3 separate regions of the Homo sapiens genome follow, and regions 1 and 3 are each linked to region 2. The links come from fine-mapping of genetic effects on plasma protein levels. A gene starts in region 2. Each other region holds a variant in brackets. All regions are shown on one strand. Distances are between the middles of the regions.

Region 1 (6,998 bases), 47 kb before region 2:
AAACATACCATTAGATGTGTTACAGAACTGAGCAGCATATCATTAGATGTGTTACAGAACTGAGTCCTACTTACAATAATTAATTTAATTTCAATAGCGATCCCCACCATTTATGTCCTAGGCATCTACACAATTGGTCTCTGAGCGAAAACACAGCCTTATCTGCAATAAAAGCCTCTGCTTTGCTTTGGCATGTTTTTACAATAGCATCTGGATGTTTTGAGCCTCCACCATTACTTGCAATTTTTGCTCATCTCACTTCCCAAAGGGCTGACAGGGCATGTGAGTGATAATTCCTATAGGTGAGTTGACTTGGAGCAAACGTTCAAGGTCACGGGCCCAGGGGAATATGCAGTTACTAATCCAGCCACCGGCTGCCTTACTTCAGATAACCTCACAAGTCGGGACAACTGTTGGTTTCTGGCACTCACCTGTCAGGCTCGTGATGTATCCTAAGCTGTGCATGAACGGGGCTGCCAGAAAAGTTTTCTTCTTTCTTTAGCAAAGGAAGTTCAGCTAGGCTGACTCAAACTTAATTCCCTGATTAAAATGCTAACATATGTTTGTCTCTTTCCTGAATTCCCTCAACACAGAACAGACTGTAAAAATTAAATGAAAATAAAACACCAACTAGGCATCATTTACCAAGAGACTGCAACATAACATCAGATCTCGCAAAGCAAACAATCTGTAAGAGAATCAGAAATCACATCTATACTGAAAGGGCAAAAGGGAAAAGTAGAGACGACCTCTGAGATGGAGATAGCAGGTATATTCACTGCCACACTATATGGCTCTGTCCTTCATGCTCTAAACACATAACCAAGATTTCTTCCTGAGGACTACTCATTTTCTGCCCAAGTCTCTCACCATCTTTTCCTCCACAAGCCTTCATCTCTCTACGTCTGTTCTGAAAAAATAAAGATGAGCCTCAGGATTCCTGGTTTCACAAAACGGAAGTGGCAGTGCATCATATGAACAGGACGGCCTGTGTTCTAGTGATGGCAGGGCCAGCCCTCTCCCTCTGGCCACACGCCTCATTGTCCCCCTGCTGACACATGAGGATCAAGACTGGCCATGTCTGATATGGATGGGGCCAGTCCTTTCCCTCTAGTCACACGCTTCCCTGGGGACACACCTTTCTCTGTGGCGTCGCCCACGATGATCTTGCCGCCACGCTTGCTGGTCTTCTCCACTGACAAGGCAGTGCTCAGGCCCTGCTCATGCTTCCCCAGACCCTGGCCCTCCCGGAAGCCGTACTTCTGCATGATCTTGTGCGCCACCGTGCCCCTGGCAGGAGAAGAAGGGAAAGGACTCTTAGCCTTGACATCGTCAACTGGAGATAGGTTGCATTTTTCCATCACAACAACCTCCTTCTGGAGAGAGTGCATGCTCCACAGGGGCTTCAACAAAGTCACTCATTAACTAGGAGTGGGCTATTAGATGGAAGCTGTGGGGATGTGCAGCATGAAAGAAATAGAAAAAGCTATGAATAAAATCCAGAACATCCTGTTGTCTTGGAGGGGAAATGTCAGTTTCTCTGGTGGAGTCTCCTCAGTGCCCTGCTAGGAAACACAAGACCTTTTGTGTGCTCCGGACCTGCACTGCCACATAGCTTATGACCACAGTTTATTAAAAAGTGGCTATCAAAAAGTAAGTATGAAGTTTCGTACAATGAAGATGATCCCATTTTCCTAAATAGCACAGGAGAGTTTCCAATGACAGACTATACAAATGAAAGAACCCTTAGAGATCACCTATTTAACAAATGAGAAATAAACGGAGGCCAAGATTAGCTGACTAGCTTAAGGGGTGGACTTAGAAGTAATGCAAGACGCCATATTAGAAATTATTTGTACAGGCTGGGTGCAGTTGATCACACTTATAATCCCAGCACTTTGGGAAGCCGAGGCGGGTGGATCACCTGAGGTCAGGAGTTCAAGACCAGCCTGGCCAACATGGTGAAACCTCATCTCTACTAAAAATGTAAAAATTAGCTGGGCATGATGGTGTGCACCTGTAGTCCCAGCTACTTGGCAGGCTGAGGCAGGAGAACTGCTTGAACCTGGGAGGCAGAGGTTGCAGTGAGGCGAGATCGCACCACTGCACTCCAGCCTGGGCGACAGAGCGAGACTCCATCTCAGAAAACAAATAAATTATTTGTACAGCTGTTAATGGTAGAGCTGAAACTGGACCCCACAACTCTCAGTCACTGCTTTCTGTAACAACCAAATGGCTCTCACACTGCGCTCTGAGGCGCAGCATGGGTCTGAAGGGCACCCCAACCCCATGACCACTGCTGCTTAGGGCTTAAGCCACAAAATCCCGCTTCAACTGGAACTGCACCTACATTACTTCTTGTATTTAATTCCCTTAACATTTTCATTTGAACAAGCTATTCTAGGGCTAAAAAGACCAGAAACTGCTGAATGGTACCATCTTGCATCTTTCCTAAGCACAAGTTAAAGATGTAATTCCTGGTTAAAAGCAAATTCGCTAAAAAGTCAGTTTTTATCATAAACAGGGAAAACAAAACAAAACAAAACAAAACCAGCTTCATGTCTGTCCAACCCTCCAGTACACAAAGCTTCCTGCAGCCACGGCCATGTCCTATGTCTGCACCATCCAACATCGTCACCACTTGCATGTGGTCACTGAGCACTTGAAAGGAGACTAGTGAGTTTCAACCCCACTCACTGTCTCACCGGCTGCATTTCTGCTACAGGCAGCAGCCAGCAGATGCAACACAGCACAGAACAAAGCCTTCATGTGATACTGCTTCATGGGACAGCCGTCTCACAGGATCAAAGTCAACAACACAGAATATCCTCTTAACCAAAATGTTTGCCAAGCCCAGCACAGTTTAAAAAAATCCCCAAGCCCCACCTGAGCGTCAGCCTTACAGTCAAATTTTATATGCTGGCAAACATGTCAACTTGTAGTTAGAATGACCCCGAGTTTTTTAGACCAAAGGTTTAGAACCATGACCTGAAAGCAAATGGCCCACTTTATCAGGAAAAAAAAGGTATCACCTGCCCTTTGGAGACAGTAAGTCAGCTCTGATTCATATGAGCTATTTTATTTGCAAACGTTATGAAGGCAAATGTAAACATTAATCAGGTTCTGTGCCTGTCTAGGAAAATAATGTTCAACATCAAAATGAGTCAAAACTT[C/T]TACTGGGAGGTTGCTGTTTTGAACAAGCCCCATCATTACACTGGAACACGCTCCACACGATTGAGGCAGGTACCGTGTGACCTGCACACACCAAGGGTCCTGAATGTCCTCAGTTTCAAACAAGCTGCATCTATTGAAAGGGCTATCAACGCTTCACACTGTCTCTCAAGTCCTTAGATAAGAACATTAAATCATTACCCCATGTTAGCGAGGAAGGAGTTGCTAGGTCCGGTTGGAGATCTCGGTCTGTCTTGTTCCTCGTACACTGGGGGAGGAATGGCTGCTTTGGAAGACTGTGATCGAGGTCTTGAGTCCTCTTCATAAGGAAAATCTCGGGGTACTATTGGAGAAAAATAAAGTAGGCTCACCAAAATACTATAGAAAACACTCTGAAACCTCACTTGTATCAATTATTTATCTTGAACAAATTTAACCTACTTTTTGGTTTACCACAAGGAGAGAAAAACACCAAATCAATTTTACAGCCTTTATACGACTTTTTTTAAAACCACAGAGGGAGGACGCTACTTTCCTGATTCTAACTTTCCTTTTGCTATTTCTATCTCCTCAAACGTCTTTTTTATATCTTACTGAAATGTTATTCACCCTTTAAAATCTTCTTGAATGAATATTCTTGCCGGAAAGATGTTCTGTATGTTCTAAGGAGATACAATCTGGCCATCTTTTGACTCCTGCAGTAACTTGGGTGCACCTGTCTAGACCCCGACCTCACTATCTCATCAGCTCATGGCCCACAAAGGTGTCCGAGGTTAGGGGCTACGCACTGGAGCGGTGGCTTCAACCCTAGTTAGATGAAAGTCAGTAGGACGCTTTAAGACCATCCAGATGCCTGAGCCCCACTCCCAGAGACTAGTTTCAATTGGGGTTTATTGTTTGTCTGTTGTTTTCACATAATAGGTATTTCATAATATCTTAGAAATTATCTTCTTTAAAAGATAAAGAATTCAACAAGTTTTAAAAAGTACTATAAATGAGAATATCTGCTTGGGATAGTTTAAGTATGGTCCAATCCAGAGAATGGGAAAATGACCTAGATGATATTCAGAAGTCCAGTCCCAACCCCCAAATTCTAGAGCAGATCACTGCGAGAAGGAACAGTGGGTGAGGGTGTTTTGGCAACGCAATGACACGCAAACCCACCTGCAGTGAAATGGAACGGGAAGAAAAAATCTAATCAAGGAAGGCATTGCCACCTTGTGGAGGATCATGAATATAACAGCCTCTAAACCTCTGAGTTAAAAAACTGTAACGATCTGCTGTTTTAACTCCAAATGAATCTAACAACAAATAAGAAATGTTAATGAAATCAAAGTGAATTGCATAAAAAAGAGATGGATCCCACTGCATGAAATCCAAGCCTCAGAGCCTGGCGTAGAAAGGTCTCTCTCTGCAGGAGGGCGCTGCATTCTGAGATCCAGGTGCGGCCTCAGGTGACAGAGCCAGGCAGGCTTGCAGGCCGTTTCCCTCTACGCTCAGGAAACCTGGGGGCCCAAGCTGAGATCCCCCATGGTTGGGTTAAAGACCTGTATCAGAATAAAAGAGGAAGAAACAGATCTACTTACACTCTTTGTCTTTCTCTACCAGAGAAGTGGGTGGGGCAATGGCAGCTCCGCCCATACCTGCAAAACCACAAATCCAAGCATTAAAGGAGGTTTCCGATGCCAGACTCCCAAACGACTATGACACACCATATATCTATCACCCACCCCCCTAAGAAAAAACTAAAAAAGGAGGACCTGCTACTTCAGATGACCTCCTGCTACATATGAACAAACCTCTGATGCTAGGATTTAAAATGTAGAAAAGTGGCAACACTCCCTCAGATATGCAAAATTGTTCCTTCATAAAAGGAACTCAAGAGCCCCACAATGTAGTCTGCAAATGAATTTTAAGGCAAAACAATACAACCAAGAGAACCAGCAGTTACTTAAAAAGAGAGTAATGTAACTATTTACCGAGAGCAATACCCATTAGGCCCTTTATACACATGGCCTCGTTCAGGCTTCACAGACCTCTGAAGTAGATATTACTGCATCCAGTTTACAAATAAGAGAATGATCAGAGGGGAGTGAATCAACAGAAAGGGAGTAAACCCAGCTCCCTGCGTTGCCATATCTCCCCCACCACACAGCACGCTCCTTTTCCAGTGTGCAAACCACTGGAACTAAACACATATTTGAAAGCGTGGGTCCTTCTGGCTCCTGAAGAAACTGCTGCGTGTTGTCACTATTCCTGGTGTATTTCCTGGACAACGAATGGTGAACACAAACAAACCAAAAGAGATAAGACAGATCTTTTTATCTGGTATCCGACAACTGGAAGGAGAACATCAGTGGAGACCACAAGGAATTTTGCATTAGGCATAAGTCCTAACATATATGGATTACGTATACATAATATTACATAATACATATGTATTATGGCTTAATCAACAATGAAATAAAAACAAAATGTAAAACTTTAAAAATTGATTACAAAGTCATGCTGCATCAGCACAAAATGTTTGACAAAAGAAATTATTCTGGCTGGACGCAGTGGTTCACTCCTGTAATCCCAGCACTTTGAGAGGCTGAGGCAGGCAAATCACTTGAGGCTAGGAGTTTGAGACCAGCCTGATCAACATGGTGAAACCCCATCTCTACTAAAAATGCAAAAATCAGCTGGGCATGGTGGCACACACCTGTAATCCCAGCTACTTGGGAGGCTGAGGCAGAAGAATCATTTGAAACTAGGAGATGGAGGTTGCAGTGAGCCGAGATGGCGCCACTGCACTCCAGCCTGGGCAACAGAGCAAGAGTGTCTCCAAAAAAAAAAAAAAAAAAAAAGAGGCCGGGTGCAGTGGCTCATACCTGTAATCCCAGGACTTTGGGAGGCTGAGGTGGGTGGATCACTTGACGTCAGGAGTTTGAGACCAGCCTGGCAAACATGGTGAAACCCTGTCTCTACTAAAAATGTAAAAATTAGATGGGCGTGGTAGCGCACACCTGTAATCCCAGCTACTCTGGAGGCCGAGGCAAGAGAATTGCTAGAACCCAGGAGGTTGCAGGTTGTGGTGAGCCGAGATTGCACCACTGCACTCCTGCCTGGGCAACAGAGTGATTCCATCTCAAAAATAAATAAATTCATTCTTCTAAAGAATTATTCTAGAAATTATTCTAAAGCCAGTGTCCATGCATTTTGATTAACAGGACTGGATGATATAAAATCCTCAAGGAGAAATATGAACCTGAGTAAAACCTTCTTCTATTTCCTTTGAAATACTTCCATGATCATTTTACTAACCTTGTCACTAGGACCTAGAGTGATTACTGATTCTGAAAAGCAGATTAGCTCTAATAAGTTCAGTTAAAAAAATTCAGGGTGATTACTGGAAATCTGCTACTAATCACATTAAAATAAGAACATCAATCTGTCAACAACTATACATATGATGGGCATGCCACTACCTCCCTATCATGAGCTACAAGGTCAAACAAAGTCTTCTCATTCAAAGCTATCTAGTTCCTGCTGGTGTTTAAGAAAAAAAAACAAATGTCCTTAGTATGGAAAGCATGCCTCCTTATTAAAAAGGGCAGTCAATTTATAAGCTGGAAAAATGAGACCTACAAATATTCAACCTATATACTGAATTCCAAAAGAAGTTAATAAAAACCAAACATTTGGGGATTAACTAAGATAGCGGATATGAAATGTGTCACAATGCCCAAAACAGACACACTCAATGTTAACTATGCTTCCCCCCTAAGAGAAACAACAGAGTGGATTCAGCATCGGCCAACTGGACTGTGCTGCAGGTAAAGACA
Region 2 (8,325 bases):
ATGGTTATTCATTTCATACGGGCATCTGTGCCACTTGGTTCTACAGGCATTTTTTTTTTTTGAGACAGACTTTTGCCCTTGTCCCCCAGGCTGGCGTGCAGCGGTGTGATCTTGGCTCACTGCAATCTCCACCTCCTAGGTTCAAGCAAGTCTCCTGCCTTAGCCTCCCAAGTAGCTGGAATTACAGGCATGTGCCACCAAGCCCGGCAAATTTTTGTATTTTTAGTAGAGACAGGGTTTCACCATGTTGGCCAGGCTGGTCTCAAACTCCTGACCTCAGGTGATCTGCCTGCCTCGGCCTCCCAAAGTGCTGGGATAACAGGCGTGAGCCATCGTGCTCGGCCGGTTCTATGGGCATTGTGGAAGTGACCGTTAACAAGCCCCAAGGGTAAGTAAAGGAAAATGAAAGGTGATTGATTCCTCACCACCTCTCCCCTTTTTTCCTCTACTCTTTGCCCCTGCTCCCCAATCTAGACTCTAATAAACAGAAATGATTTTTGTTGCAAGCTGAAAACTCGTTCTTGTGGTTGGGGCTAGGGGGGTGGCAAGTCAAGCTTTAGAGTTGTCTGGATAATAAATGCTGTCTTCAAGGACTGTCCAACATTGTAGGAACAAGAGAACAACCCAAGTGAACAACTAACTCCTGTTCACAAATGCTACTGCCTCTCTGCCATCCCCTAACCTCAGCCTCACACACTTGAATTTCGCCAATCCATTTGATGAGCTCAAATCAGTGAATTTTCTCCTCGCCAAAGCTCACAAATTCTGTTCCCCGCTTCTTGCCCCACATCCAGGCATTACCAACTGCATTTTCCCTTTGCCTGATATTCTGGCATCAAGCCTCCTTGCCATTCCAATTTATTTCACCTTCCTCCAGTCCTTATGATTTCCTTCCTGAAGAGTATTTCAGCATCTCTATGCCTCAATCTTCCCTGCACACCACACCAGCTCGGCCTCATCATCACATCACTTGGCTATGTCCCGCCTGGGTTAGACAGCTTCAGTGGCTGAAGTCCATAGATCTTATTCTGTTTTTCGAGGTCCACCTGACTCTGAATCCAGCTGATATTTCTGCCCTTAGCTTCTACCCCTCTCTACTTCTGGTTAACTATGGACCACACTCTGCTTCCTCAGGAACCACCTACCAAGGCCGTATCCATCCTTCAAGGACAATACGTGGGCCTTTCCTGATCACATCAGCTCAACAACTTTTCCCTCCTACATTTCAATTGCTCTTCTTACCATAATCATTAGTATTCACCCCACTGTACGTCTAGAAAGAAAGTGGTCTTAAACCTAAGGGAAGGCAGTCTAGGTCAGAAATTTGTTGTCCGCTGTTCTGAGCAGTTTCTTCTAGGAAGTACCAAACATTTCTGATAATAGAATTGAGCAATTTCCTGATGAAGTGAGACTCAGCTTGCACTGTTGACCGGCTGTCCCTGGATGAACCTAGTTACTTTTAACCAAATGTTCCTTTCTTGAACTTGTTCCTTTCTTGAACTTAATCTACCAATGTTATCTAGATAACTTTCCTCAAAAAAAAAAAAAAAAAAAAAAACCCTCTACTAGGAAAGAAATCTTTGAACCGGACTTATTGGAAATTACCTCCTTGCAGCAGGTTTGAAACAAAACTTTGAATTTGCCTCACAAAGAATTTGTCTGAAACTGCTTTAGTATATGCTAGTTATATTTGTATGCACATGTGGCTTCATACATAGTGGTTGGACACCCATATGTGTTATGCACTTTGTTAGGTGACGTAAGTTCACAGATAAACTGGACATAGGGCTATCCTCTAGAGGCCCACAGTTTGACACCTTAACCTGAGATCCTTGGACCTTTGAAGTTCAGAGTGCCCACAACCGCTGGGTGTGGTGGCTCACACTTGTAATCCCAGTACTCTGCAGGGCTGAGGTGGGAGGATCGCTTGAGTCCAGGAGTCTGAGACCAGCCTGGGCAACATGACAAAACCCCATCTCTACAAAAATTACAAAAAAAATTAGCCAGGCCTGGTGGTGCATGCCTGTGGTCCCAGTTACTTGAGAGGCTGAAGTGGGAGGATCACTTGAGTCAAGGAGGTAGAGGCTGCAGTGAGTTGAGATGGCAACACTGCACTCCAGAAACCCCATCTCAAACAAAACAGAGCAAAACAAAACAAACTGCCCATAATGCTCCTGAAACTTCCTACGGATTTATCCAGAGTATGTGCTGATGTGCATTTTTTCCAAGGAGGGAAACCAAAGGTTCTATCAAATTAAGAAAAGAGTTTTTACCATTGTGGAAGACAGTATGGCGATTCCTCAAGCATCTAAAATCAGAAATACCATTTGACCCAGCAATCCTATTACTGGGTATATACCCAAAGGAATAGAAATCATTCTACTATAAAGTCACATGCACCCGTATGTTTATTGCAGCACTATTTACAATAGCAAAATGGAACCAACTGAAATGCCCATCAATGAGACTAGATAAAGAAAATGTGATACATATACACCATGGAATACTATGCAGCCATGAAAAGGAATGAGATCATGTCCTTGGCAGGGACATGGATGAAGCTGGAAGCCATTATCCTCAGCAAACTAACACAGGAACAGAAAACCAAATGCCGCATGTTCTCACTCATAAGTGGGAGTTGAACAATGACAGCACATAGACATAGGGAGGGGAACATCACACGCCAGGGCCTGCTGCAGGGTGGGGGGTGGGGTGTGAGGGGAGGGAACTTAGAAGACAGGTGAGTAGGTGCAGCAGACCACCATGGCGCACTTATACCTATGTAACCAACCTGCACGTTCTACACATGTATCCTGGAACTTAAATTAAAAACAAAAAAGAGTTTTTAATCCAAAAAAGATTAACAGCAACTAGAAGAAAGAAAGAGATATAAACAGTGAATTGCAATGCAGCACGGCAGGTGTTATGATGGAGTAGAAAGGACTGGAAAAGGCCTCCTGGAGGAAGGGACACTCAAGTGTCTTTCCATTTCACCTGTAAACTCATTAAGGGCAAAAGCTTTGCTACAGCTTCAGTATGAGATCCTGGGCAATCCGTGACAAAATGGGTCTGCTTTTGCACCCCCAACTTCTTCTCACATCCCTGCATCGTGCCATGCAGCATCAACTGGAAACCTCAGCATCAGCAAACGACGACAGAGCGTTCATCCGTAAGGTGAACCAGAAAAGCCAGTTCAATGACTTGTTTAACCATGGTCCATCTCAGAACCAAGAGTTGGGCCTCTTATTTACCAGAAAAATTGTGGGGGCTTTGTGATATGGCTTTAAAAAAATCTTGTAATTGCCAGGCGTGGTGGCTCACACCTGTAATCCCAGCACTTTGGGAGGCCGAGGTGGGTGAATCGCCTAAGGTCAGGAGTTCGAGACCAGCCTGACCAACATGGTGAAACTCCGTCTCTACTAAAAATACAAAAACTAGCTGGATGTGGTGACGCGTGCCTGTAATCCTAGCTACTCAGGAGGCTGACGCAGGAGAATCACTTGAACCTGGGAGGCAGAGGTTGCAGTGAGCCAAGATTGTGCCATTGCGCTCCAAAAAAAAAAAAAAAAAGACATTAACATAAATTTAAATATTTTATAATGACAATCCACATTAACTACTTAAAGCATAAGCTATTTTCCAGGAGAGGCAGCAAGTGCATTCTACTCCCATGCCCAAGAAGAAAGGAGCGTGACTTTGGTGGGAGTACTAGGAGTTTCTACTGGAGCACTTGCCCGCAGAGTGAGAAACGTTCCTAGAGAGGAAGTTATACCTGCTGTGGAATTTAAGAGAATCTTGTCATATTTTGACAAGTTTTTTGAGATGGAAGTCTCACTCTGTCGCCCAGGCTGGAGTGCAGTGGCGCAATCTCAGCTCACTGCAGCCTGCACCTCCTCGGTTCCAGCTATTCTCTTGTCTCAGCCTCCTGAGTAACTGGGATTACAGGCGCCCGCCACTACGCCTGGCTAATTTTTGTATTTTTAGTAGAAATGGGGTTTTACCATGTTGGCCAGACTGGTCTCAAACTCCCGACCTCAGGTGATCTGCCTGCCTCAGCCTCCCAAAGTGCTGGAATTACAGGCGTGTGCCACTGCGCCTGGCTAATTTTTTTTTTTTTTTTTTTTTTTTTTTTTTTTTAGTAGAGACGGTGGTTTCACCATGTCATCCAGGCTGGTCTCAAACTCCTGACCTCAGGTGATCCACCCACCTTGGTCTACCAAAGTGCTCGGATTACAGGCATGAGCCACCAGGCCCAGTCAACGTGATGTGTTTTGGAACCCTGAATTCCTTGGCTTGCCCGGAGGGTTTTCTTTTTGTTAATATCTTTGCTTGCTTTCTAGTATTTAAAAAATTGTGTTTTGCTCTAACTATGCAATGGCTTTAAGTCTTAGACAAATTTCCAGGGAGCAAAACACACTCAACCATTTCATAATAATCAGAAGAGAGCTCTGATCAATAAATAAGCAAGACTGAATTTTACAAAATAATCCAAAGTTTAAAACCAAAGCCCACTTTTTGCATGATCCTTTAAGAGAAAGAAATCTGGAAGCAAAACACCTTATAAAATGACAATGCACTTTCAGGAGCCCAGGGCACTGTGGTGAAATGATGATGGCTAGTACAGGTTATAAGCCTTGGGGAATTATTTATGAATTCTCAGGATCCTTCAGTTCGCCGCATCCTTCTCCATTATTTGAATATTGGAGGCTGCCTGACCAGAATCTTGTCAGGACTTTGCTCCTTCATCCCAGGTGGTCCCGGCTGACTCCTGAGGACGTTACAGCCCTGAGGGGAGGACTCAGCTTATGAAGTGCTGGGTGAGACCACTGCCAAGAAGTGCTTGCTCACCCTACCTTCAACGGCAGGGGAATCTCCCTCTCCTTTTATGGGCGTAGCTGAAGAAAGGATTCATAAATGAAGTTCAATCCTTCTCATCAACCCCAGCCCACACCTCCAGCAATTGAACTTGAAAAAAAAAACCTGGTTTGAAAAATTACCGCAAACTATATTGTCATCAAAAAAAAAAAAAAAAAAAAACACTTCCTATATTTGAGATGAGAGAAGAGAGTGCTAGGCAGTTTCCTGGCTGAACACGCCAGCCCAATACTTAAAGAGAGCAACTCCTGACTCCGATAGAGACTGGATGGACCCACAAGGGTGACAGCCCAGGCGGACCGATCTTCCCATCCCACATCCTCCGGCGCGATGCCAAAAAGAGGCTGACGGCAACTGGGCCTTCTGCAGAGAAAGACCTCCGCTTCACTGCCCCGGCTGGTCCCAAGGGTCAGGAAGATGGATTCATACCTGCTGATGTGGGGACTGCTCACGTTCATCATGGTGCCTGGCTGCCAGGCAGGTAAGGGCCTGTGGGTGCCCCCGGAATTCCGGGAAGGCTGATGGGCATCCCTCTTCCCAGCCACAGAACCAGAGGGAGTCCCCAGGTAGATGGTTCCAAGAAGGGAGTTGAATCTTGGGTTCCACCTCTTGCCTGTGACCCACGGGGACCCCAGTTTATGCCTCACTGTTCCTTGGTCTGTCAAGAGAGCCTGAAATAGCATTAGGTTCTCCTGTCCTTCTCAGTCCTTGACAATTAATTCTGGGAAGAATAGTGTGGCATGATATTTGGGATATTTGGATGTTAACAGGGTCCCGATGAGCAGGTTTCTCAAGAAATTATCTTTTATTCTTCAATGAATTTCCTTTTATTCTCTGCACTCCCACCCCCCAACTAAGAAGCTATCAGGAAGCTCTTTAAGTTCAGGTTAATTTGCTGGAGACATGAGTACTCATATATCAAACACTGGGAGAATTTAAGATCTCAGAAAAGTTTAGCTTCAAGGATGTATACACTGCTTTTACGTCTTAGGAAATAACACCTAGGAATTTCCTTACAAGTGCAACTTTACAGAAATTTTTAAAAATATGCATACTCACTTTTAGAACATTACTACTTCTCATAATCCTATGTATATACATGATATGTATATGTATACGTGTTTATATATGCAAATTTTAAATTTCATTCCTTGTTTCAAATGGATTTTCTCGAAGATTTTTTTTTTTTGACACTGTCTCTGTCAGCCAGACTGGAGTGCAGTGGCGCGATATTGGCTTACTGCAACCTTCGCCTCCCAGGCTTAGCGATCCTCCCACCTCAGCCTCCTGAGTAGCTGGGACTACAGGCATACGCCACCACACCTGGTTAATTTATTTTTTTGTAGAGATGGGGTTTTTGCCATGTTGCCCAAGCTGGTCTTGAACTCCTGGGCTCAAGTGATCCACTCACCCTGGCCTCCCATACTGCTGGTACTACAGGCATGAACCACCGTGCCTGGCCAATATTTTTTTTTAAAGAAATAAAAAACCACCAACTTCTACCTCAAACCACTCTTCCTAATTGAGTGTGAATTTTCTAATAATGTCTTCCCTTTGCTTACTCAGGAAGACAGATAAGAAAGTTTATAGTGTTTTTTGAAAGTCTATAATGGCAACAAGTAGAATGCTAACTGGCTGTAGAAAGAATTTATTAAGAAATGAAACATAATGATGCATTTCAGGAGTCTGCTTGCTTGTTTAGGGGAAGTGCCCAGTCATGCTGGGCTGTGTACTGGCCCAGATGTAGGAGTGTCTTTAAAGAGGGCATTTTATTTACTTATTACATTTTTATTTATTTTTTTTTTACTTTTTGAGACAGAGTCTCACTCTGTTGCCCAGGCTGGAGTGCAGTGGCGTGATCTCAGTCCACTGCAACCTCCACCTCATGGGCTCAAGTAATTCTCGTGCCTCAGACTCCTGAGTAGCTAGGTTTACAGGTGCGTGCACCACCACGACCAGCTAATTTTTGTATTTTTAGTAGAGATGGGGTTTCACCATATTGGTCAGGCTGGTCTCAAACTCCTGACCTTGTGGTCCACCAGCCATGGCCTCCCAAAGTGCTGGGATTACAGGTGTGAGCCATCGCGCCTGACCTATGTGTTTTATTTTAATAGGTTTTGGAGGACAGGTGGTGTTTGGTTACATGAATAAGTTCTTTAGTGGTGATTTGTAAGATTTTGGTGCACCCATCACCTGAGCATGTATGCTGTACCCAATGCGTTGTAAGATTTTGGTGCACCCATCACCTGAGCATGTATGCTGTACCCAGTGCGTAGTCTCTTTTCCCTCACCCACCTCGCACCCTTTCCCCTGAGTCCTCAGAGTCCATCGTGCCGTTCTTATAAAGAGGGCATACTTTTAGGAAGGTTTTTCAATGTGATTTCTACATCCACAGGGTCTTTGCTAACTCAGTCTAAGCCAAGAACAGGAAAATCTTGACAATTAATCATGCTCTGCCTCTGGAAGACACATTTCAAGTAAACTCGTGTTATTTCTAGCTATTGGTGACTTATCCAAGGGTCTGAGTGGTCTTGGAGGGAGCAGGGGAACTAGAGTCCCATAAGGACTCCTTCACGCCATTCTCAACATCTATCCATACCCCATCTGCCCCTCAACACTATAGGAAATACAAAAATGAGGGAGATATAGTCCTGACACTTAAGCAACTTATAACCTGGTGAGGAGGAGAAAAACATAGATATAAATATAGTAATACCAGTCAGAGTGTGGTAAGATCTACGGAGCGTTGGGCTATCAGAGAAGGCTTCATGAGGATGACATGTAAAGGGAGCCCCAAGGGACCAGTAAATTTCCATCAATGAGATTCCAGGGAGAGAGACCCCAATGAGCCAAAACACAGGAGTGCCTTAGGGAGCAGCAGGTGGTCCAATGTGCTCCTGCCCTGGACAGGGAGGGTGGGGATATGGGGAATTCAAACTGGAAAGTTAGGATGAGGTAAAATGAATCATCTAAGGCATTAGGCATTTTTAGTCTGTATATTGCTGGGCCCTGGGATGTGGTCAGAAAGAGAATTCTCCTAGTGATAACTTCTTAACTTCACCTAGTAGGCAATAAAGAACTACAAGAAAATTTAAAACTACCATTTATAAAGTAACTTCTATGTGCCAGATATGTGTCCTATTGTAATCTTCATAGCCACTTTGCAGTATGGATATCATGAACCCCTAGATGAAGCAAGAACCCAAAACTCAGACTCGCACAGGCAGTGAGAGTGCCAGGGTTTGAACCTGGTCTCCCTGGATTGTTCTGTTTCTGTTCATTGCAAACAGGGTCAGCGCTTTATGGAGATGATACTGGCATAGAGTGGAGAGAGATCAGGTGCACAGAGACAGGTCATGAGGCTCTTAAAATAGTCCAATCACAAGGCAAATGAGGACCCAGTGGCCAAAGACAATGACAGGGGTCAAGTTTCTGGAATCAACAGGAATT
Region 3 (8,000 bases), 45 kb after region 2:
GGGGCTGTGGGTGGGGAATTCAGAGATTTAATCAGAACAAGACATGGTCTCAGGCCACAGGTCCGTCAGGCCTGGGATGTAGTTGGGTGAGTGGAAAGTTCTGGGGATGGGAAATTTTGAGACGTCTTGAAAGGGCGCATGTGTGTCAACCTTCAGGTGTGGCTTGATCAGAGATGGTGCTCCATTTCTCTGAGGTTCCCTCAGCCCGTCCCTCCTCCTGGCTTTGGTGTTGTCCCCAATCCTTCCGACATCATCCCAAGATGCCCAGCCGCTGCCCCCAAGAATGCACTTCCTCACTTGTCCAGCAGAAATCCAAGGTGGTCTTCATGCTCCATTGGCCCAAATAGGCTTGAGCCTACCCTTGTGTCTCAGCTGAGACTGCCCCGCCCACTCCTGTCCACTGTCAACACCTGCACTGTCTTCCAAGAGGCAGTTGTGGCGTTCCTGTCTCGGGGCCGCACCAACCAGAATGAATCGCTCATTCCTCTGTGTTCCCATTGCCAACGTCTGCTATCCTTCACATGCCTTTCTTACCCAATCCACTGTCCACCCCTTGCAGGAGTGACAGGGTCTTCGTGCCTTCCTACAGGGCCTAGCAAACTTCCCCACGCTCAGACGTTCTCAACATATATTGGTTGAATGAAAGGATGAGCAAGCAGTCAAGAGAGTAAGAACCAAGGTCCAGTCCCTAGCAAGAGGCAACCTGGACTCACTCGCGGTGCTGTCCCCAACTTGCCTTCAGAGCATTCCTTCCATCTTCCAGGTCACTGCAGGGAACCTCCACCATGGGAAAATGAAGCCACAGAGAGAATTTATCATTTCGTGGTGGGGCAGATGGTTTATTATCAGTGCGTCCAGGGATACAGGGCTCTACACAGAGGTCCTGCTGAGAGCGTCTGCAAAATGACCCACGGGAAGACAAGGTGGACCCAGCCCCAGCTCATATGCACAGGTGAAATGGAGACCAGTCAGTTTCCAGGTAGGGTGGCTCCCTTCTGGGGTCCACAATGTTGCTTTGCTCCATCAGGCTGACCAGAGTGGAATCCCTGACCACTCCTGCTGGACAAGAGTGGTCCTTGGACAAGACCCTTGATCTCCCTGGGCTTCCATTTTTTCTCATTCTGAGAAAAAAAAAAAAATTTAAATAGACCAGATCAGATGGACTCTAAGGGCTCCTTCAATGAAGGTCCCCCTGTGCCCTGAGTGGGGAGAAAGGTTGGAGACAGAAGAGAAGGAAAGCCCTCTCCTAAGCACCCTAGATGCTGCCTCGTAGTTGGTCCTAAGTCCACTACTTCTCTAAGCCACCAAGGCCTCCTCTGGCTCCAAGGGCAAGTCCAGTTTCCCACTCACACATTTTTCCTCTTACTGGTGATCGTGTAAATGCATGATCTGAACAGCCCTCCACGGTCAGCATGTTCCTTCCCCTTGTGCCATTCCCCAGCTGAGCTTGTAAAAATAAACATAAAATGTGCAGAGTCGGGACTTACTCAGTGCACATGCGCGCACACACACACACACACACACATACTCATGCAAATGCTCAGCCCACCGATGTCGAGGTCTCCTGCTGTCTTCCTTCTGAAATCTTATTAGTATCACGACAATCAAAAGTGACTTACATGCAGGCTGGGCACAGTGGCTCACACCTGTAATCCCAGCACTCTGGGAGGCCAAGGCGGGCAGATCACTTTAGGTCAGGAGTTCGAGACCAGCCTGGCCAACATGGTGAAACCCCGTCTCTACTAAAAATACAAAAATTATCTGGGCGTGGTGGTGGGTGCCTGTAATCCCAGCTACTTGGGAGGCTGAGGCAGGAGAATCACTTGAACCCAGGAGGTGGAGTTGCAGTGAGCTGAGATCACACCACTGCACTCCAGCCTGGGCAACAGCAAGACTCCGTCTCAAAAAAAAAAAGTGACTTACATTCAACCACAAGTATTCCTGGTTTTCTTGCTCACTGCACTTCTCATACTCCATGTCCTTCTCTTGGGTTCCCTAGGGAGGCTGTTTTGTTCCCTTAGCTGCTTCCCTGGGCCACCCTGACAGCCAGGGAATGCTTGCTGCTTCCTTGGAAGAGGGTGAGAGGCAGGGCAGAGCCAGGGTTGCTGACCCCTCAGGAGAAGTGGAGAGCCTGGCACAGAAGCAGCTGTCCCTTAGTGCATCTCTGCTCCATCCAGTGGTTCAATGGCATTCGTATTATTATGACCTGTTTCCAAGTCACAGATGGAAACCAGGACTGGGGAGGGAGGCTGGGGAGAAAGCATTGCTCAGAGTTTTGGGGACAGCTAGGGTCAGAGTTAGAATTCAGCCTCGTCTGCTCTGCTGAGACCACTTCACCGCTTCCCAGTGCCCCTGCTGTGGAACCATGAGGGGTGGCATCCCTGGCGAAGTGCCCACACCAGGATTCCTGCCTCCTCGGGCGTGTCTGGGGCCGGCTGCCTGGGGCAGGCGGGGTGGGAGTGAGGCCCTGACTCCTGTGTTTAGCTCCACCAGCATCACTTACTCTCTCCCCCAGGTGAAGAGAAGCCTCAGGCAAGCCCCGAAGGCCGTCCTGAGAGTGAGACTTCCTGCCTCGTCACAACAACAGGTGCGGGAGAAGACAAACGCTGGACCACAGAGGCCTAGTCCAAAAGGGCAGAGGTGACCAGGAGCCAGGCTCAGGGAGATAGGCGGAGGTGACCTGTAGGGGAGAAGCCCACAGCAGCCTCCTCTCCCTCTGAGCAGGGACAGGGCCTCAGCAACCTGCAGGCCCCAAAGCAAGTGTCAGAAAGAGGGAACCCAGGACCAGGACCAAGCACGGTCCCCAGGCAGAGATGGAACACCTTCCCTCACCACCACCACGTGTCTCCCACCAGCCTCTGAGCTTCTCATTCACAGAGACACCCTGACTTCCTTTAGCCTCGTGCTGTCCTAAAGTCACGGTAGCAGGAGTGTCTCTCTTTATCTCTTTTTCACAGATTTTCAAATACAGACAGAAATGGCTGCAACCATGGAGACGTCCATATTTACAACAGAGTACCAGGTAGCAGGTGAGTGGGGCACTGGCTTTGTGGACAAAATGTACACCAGGCTGAGATATGGACAGGTTGACTGGTTAGTAGGTTGGTTAGTTGGTTGGCTGGTAGGTTGGTTAGTTGGTTGACTGGTAGGTTGATAGGTAGGTTGGCTAGTTGATTGGTAAGTTGGTTCGTAGGTTGGGAGGTTAGTTGGTTAGTTGGTTGGTTGCTTGGTTGGCAGGTTGGTTTGTATGTTGGTAGGTTAGTTGATTGGTTGGTAGGTTGGTAGATTGGCAGGTTGGTGGGTTAGTTGGTTAGTTGGTTGGTAGGTTGGTTGGCAAGTTGATAGGTTGGTTGGTGGGTTGGTTGATAAGTTGATAGGTTGGTTGGTAAGTTGATAGGTTGGTTGGTGGGTTGGTTGATAAGTTGATAGGTTGGTTGGTAGGTTGGTTGTTAGGGTGGTAGATTGGCAGGTTGGTTGGTAGTTTTGTTGGTAGTTTGGTTGGTTAGCTGGTTGGTTGGTTAGTGAGTTGGTTGGTAGATAGATTGGTAGATTGGTTGGTTGGTTAGTTTGTTGGTAGGTTAGTAGGTTTGTTAGTTGGTTAGTTGATTGGTAGGTTGGTTGGTTGACTGAAAGGACCCCTTCCTTACACTGCAGAATGTGTGAGTGAAAGACTAATCCAGATACTGACGTAACTCAGAATTCGCATGAACCAGTTACAGGATGCTGTGAGCAAAGTCTCAAGTCAGCCCTATCAGCTCCTCTCAAGCTGATCTGGAAGGGCTGTACCCCGGGCCTCTGCCAGGGGTCAAGAGTGGGAGGAAGGAGCCACGTAGCCAGTCAGAGAGGACAGGCTTCCAGAAACACTGCCATTGTTTCCTGGTAGGAGGGAAAAACAGACTCTGAGTCTGCATCTGCCTAGAAAGTAAACAAATGTCAGCCTCCAAAACCTCAGCAGAGCAGCATCTGGAAAACCCGACCTCTTTCAG[G/A]AGATGTTAATGTGCTTCTCATCATCTTCATATTTCAACATTTCTTTTACCAGGCGCTCTCGGTGTCCTTAAACGAGGCCTGGCCTCTGAGCCTTTCTGAGGGGCTTTTGTGAGAGAAGGGTGCCTCCTGAGGGGAAGCTCCCTCCACCCTCACCCTGTCCTCCCTGCCCTGTTCCTCAAGACTCCTAGGAAATCCCATGGGGAGGGACCTACTTCCTGAGACAGGGAAGAGAGGCTGCAGCCTCCGCCTTGCTCTTTGGGGATGTCCTCAGCCTGCCCTGTGGCCCTGGCTCCTGCTGCCCCCATGCCAAGCCCAGGGCCCTTTGCTGAACTCCCTCTCTCTATTGACAGTGGCCGGCTGTGTTTTCCTGCTGATCAGCGTCCTCCTCCTGAGTGGGCTCACCTGGCAGCGGAGACAGTAAGTGTGGCATCACCAAGGCAGCCCTTGGTCAGATCAAAGTCCTGTACCCAGCCCCACCCTGCCTCCCCCCTACCCCCTCCATGCTCTCTCTAATCACCTGCAGTTCAGGGAGTGGCAAAGGGAGAGGCCAATCCATGCCTCGGAAAGAGTCAGTTAAAAAGAATTAAAGCACCGCCGGGTGCAGTGGCTCACGCTGGTAATCACAACACTTTGGGAGGCCAAGGCTGAGTGGATCACCTGAGGTCAGGAGTTTGAGACAAGCCTGGCCAACATGGCAAAACCCCATCTCTACTAAAAATACAAAAAATCAGTTGGGCATGGTGGCAGGTGCCTGTAATCCCAGCTACTTGGGCGGCTGAGGCAGGAAGATTGCTTGAACCTGGGAGGCGGAGGTTGCAGTGAACAGAAATCTCACCACTGCACTCCAGCCTGGGTGACAGAGCAAGACTCTGTCTCAAAAAAAAAAAAAAAAAAAAATTAAACGACCAGGGAAATGGGAAGGCAAAGGAGCCTCACATTCATTGAGCACCCACTATACACCAGGCTTGATGCTTGTTTTATAAACATTATTGAAATCTACCTTCTCAGAAACCTTTGGAATAGCTGTGGCCTAGAGAGATGCAACAGCTTGGAGAAGATGGCACAGCAGAGGCCAGCACTGCAACATGAATCTAGAGCCCATGATTTTCCCACCCAGCCCCTACCTATAGAGGACCCAGGGCAGCATCTATGCTGAGCTTTGCCTATCCTGTGCTCCCCACCCTCCCGTCCACAGAAGCTCACACCGGCATCCCCTTGACCAGGAATGTAAACCATGTGTGGTCTTTTTGCATTAACTCAGATTTTCAACCCTGCATGCATCTTAGAACATCCAGGAGACAGTCTTCTAAAATACCAGTGAGTGGCAAGATATGAGTAAATTCCACAGGAAAAGGAAGGCAGTCCAAAGGGCTGTGCTTCTCCTGTGGCTCAGTGTTATTCATAGCTGTGACATCTTTTAAGAGAGGTTTACAAGAGGGAAATCCTGTCACCAAAACCATTGTGACCCACTTTGAATTTGGGGGGAATCTTCATTTGCAACAATAGAAGAACAAATTTGTTGCAATAGGAAATATTTTTGTAGCTTATGTAGGTTGTTCAGCCAAAACAGCATAATAATTTAAAAAGTTAAAAGATAGCCCAGGAGTTGTGGCTCATGCCTGTAATCCCAGCACTTTGGGAGGCTGAGGCAGGTGGTTACCTGAGGTCAGGAGTTCAGGACCAGGCTGGACAACATGCTGAAACCCTGTTTCTACTAAAAAATACAAAAATAAGCCAGGCGTGGTGGTGGGTGCCTGTAATCCCAGCTACTTGCGAGGCTGAGACAGGAGAATCACTTGAACCCAGGAGGCGGAGGTTGCAGTGAGCCAAGATCGCGCCACTACACTCCAGCCTGGGCAACAAGAGTGAAACTCTGTCTCAAAAAAAAAAAAGAAAAAGGTAAAAGATATCAATGATTGGGCTCCAGTCAGAATGTCTGGGGTGAGCCCAAGACATCAGTACGTATTTTTAATTGAGATAAAATTCATCATTTAACCATCATAAAATGTACAGTTCAGTGGTGTCTTAGCCCATTTTGTGCTACTGTAACAGAATGCCTGAGACTGGGTAACTTATAAAGAACAGAGATTTATAAAGAACAGAGATTTATAACTTATAAAGAACAGAGATTTCTTACCATTCTGGAGGCTGGGAAGTCTGAGGTCGAGGGGCCCCCATGTATCAAGGGCGTTTGTGCTACGTCATCCTGTGGCAGAAGGCAGAAGGGCAAGAGAGTGAGAGACAGCAGGAGGGGCTGAACTCAGCTTTTATCACAAACCCACTCCTGCAATAACAACATTAATCCATTCATGAGGCAGAGCCCTCGCGACCTGATCACCTCTTCAAGATCTCACCTGTCAACATTGCTGGATTAGGGATTAAGTTTCCAACACCTGAGCTCTGGGGGATGTATTCAAACCACAGTAAGTGGTATTTAGTATGTTTGCAATGTTGTACAGCCATCCCCACTGATTCCAGAATACTTCCATCATTCCCAAGAGAAGCCCCACACTGCCAAGTTCCCCATTCTCCCCAGCCCCGGGAAACCACCACTCTATGTTCCGTCTCTATGGATTTGCCTATTCTGGACATTTCGTGTAAATGGAATCACGTGGCCTTTTATGTCTGGGATAGTCGTACGTTTTAAAGCCCCTCAGATGTATCTAATACATATGCATCCAGGTTTGACAACCCTACACCCGGCCATTGGTTTTCAAACTTGAACTAGCACCAGAATCATCTGTAGGAACATAAAGAAACGATAAATGTTTGAGATGATGGATATGCTAAATACCATGATCTGATCACTGTACCTTGTAGGTATCAAAGCATCCCTACATACCTCATAAATATATATAACTATTATGTGTCAACTTAAAAACATTTGTTGAAAGAATCATCTGGAGGCCTTGTTAAAGCACAGATTGCTGGGTCCCACCTGTGGAGTTTCTGACGCAGTCGTCTTGCTTAGGTCCAGGAATCTGTATTTCTATCAGGTTCCCAGGTGATACTGACGCTGCCGTTCCAGGGAGCAGACTCTGAGGATCACCGCACTAGGCTAACAGCATTAAGAATCAGGGAAGCTGGCCAGACTCACGCTTGTAATCCCAGCACTTTGGGAGGCCGAGGCAGGCGGATTACTTGAGGTCAGGAGTTTGAGACCAGCCTGGCCAACATGGAGAAACCCTGTCTCTTCTAAAAATACAAAAATTAGCTGGCTGTCATGGTGCGCACCTATAATCTTAGCTACTCGGGAGGCTGATGCAGGAGAATCGCTTGAACCCAGGAGGCAGAGGCTGCAGTGAGCTGAGATCGTACCACTGCACTCCACCCTGGGTGACACAGCAAGACTCTGTTTAAAAAAAAAAAGAAAGAAAGAAAAAAGAAAAGAAAGAAAAAGAAAAAGTAAACTCTAGAAACTCCCTCTGTCTCTCTCTTGATTATCCAGGGCCTCCCTGACCCCTGCCAGCATCCACTCTGGCCAACCCTGATACAAACTCCACAGTAAGACCCTGAGAAAATACAGATCCACTCCCCCAAAACCAAAGCCCTTAGCCCAGCCAGAGAGAAAAATAAAATATCTCTTCCCTTCTTATATGGGTCATCAGGTCCATAACATACTCCTAATTTTCCTCATGGGAATTAAAAAGTATAAATTACTGCAGTGCAAATGATAAGCCCCCTAGGGTTATTGTAGCAGGAATGATTCATATACCCGGCAGTCTACCAGTTTCTCTAAGGGGTTAGCTGACTCCTAAGGTGTCATTTTAGGCTTCCAGGAGGGGAAGGATGTGACGTGGCTGACATGTTGTACGTGTACTCAGTACTTGCATCCTCTCCTTCCTCAGGCTGAACACCTGACAAGCCTTAACACCTTGCAAGGATTTTTTTCATTTGTTAGTTTGAAGATCAAAAGCCTTCGGGCCCAGAGGACAAAGCTATTTGGAAGTAGGAATGGTTCAGTGTTTATGTTGTGAAACAAATAACTGTGTGAACCTATGTGAGTTCCCACA

Which allele goes with the higher level. Alleles are on the strand shown, and positions count from the first base shown. The strength of an association depends on the size of the effect and on how common the allele is. Not every link is listed here.
For the plasma level of the protein whose gene starts at base 5,077 in region 2, T is the high allele of the variant in region 1 and C is the other (weak association).

What was found. A credible set is the group of variants that fine-mapping cannot tell apart. PIP is the posterior inclusion probability: the model's chance that the variant is causal. The UK Biobank Pharma Proteomics Project read protein levels with antibody pairs (Olink). The fine-mapping took linkage between variants from a reference panel, not from the people measured, so its PIPs are less certain.
Region 1: its variant is the best candidate, but not a certain one, in a credible set for the plasma level of the IL2RA protein (UK Biobank, PIP 0.84).
Region 3: its variant is the best candidate, but not a certain one, in a credible set for the plasma level of the IL2RA protein (UK Biobank, PIP 0.58).

What each region holds. Positions count from the first base shown.
Region 1 is chr10:6,106,502-6,113,499 of GRCh38, reverse strand. RBM17 (RNA binding motif protein 17) reads right to left here. Exons shown (of 12, transcript NM_032905.5): 6 at 4,758-4,814; 7 at 3,373-3,514; 8 at 1,139-1,290. Among named protein-coding and RNA genes, the nearest start is that of RBM17, 21 kb to the right of the region's middle. RefSeq lists an enhancer at 4,995-5,690. The variant C/T (reference allele first, on the strand shown) is at 3,174.
Region 2 is chr10:6,059,119-6,067,443 of GRCh38, reverse strand. IL2RA (interleukin 2 receptor subunit alpha) reads left to right here and starts at 5,077. Exons shown (of 8, transcript NM_000417.3): 1 at 5,077-5,356. The coding sequence starts at 5,293. RefSeq lists a silencer at 1,492-1,692, a cis regulatory region at 4,694-5,324 and an enhancer at 5,317-5,366.
Region 3 is chr10:6,014,457-6,022,456 of GRCh38, reverse strand. IL2RA (interleukin 2 receptor subunit alpha) reads left to right here. Exons shown (of 8, transcript NM_000417.3): 4 at 764-979; 5 at 2,516-2,587; 6 at 2,958-3,029; 7 at 4,338-4,404. LOC124902368 (a long non-coding RNA gene) reads right to left here and starts at 6,999. Exons shown (of 3, transcript XR_007062042.1): 1 at 6,926-6,999; 2 at 6,125-6,193; 3 at 963-1,121. LOC124902573 (small nucleolar RNA SNORA14) reads left to right here and starts at 5,263; the gene lies at 5,263-5,403. The variant G/A (reference allele first, on the strand shown) is at 3,987.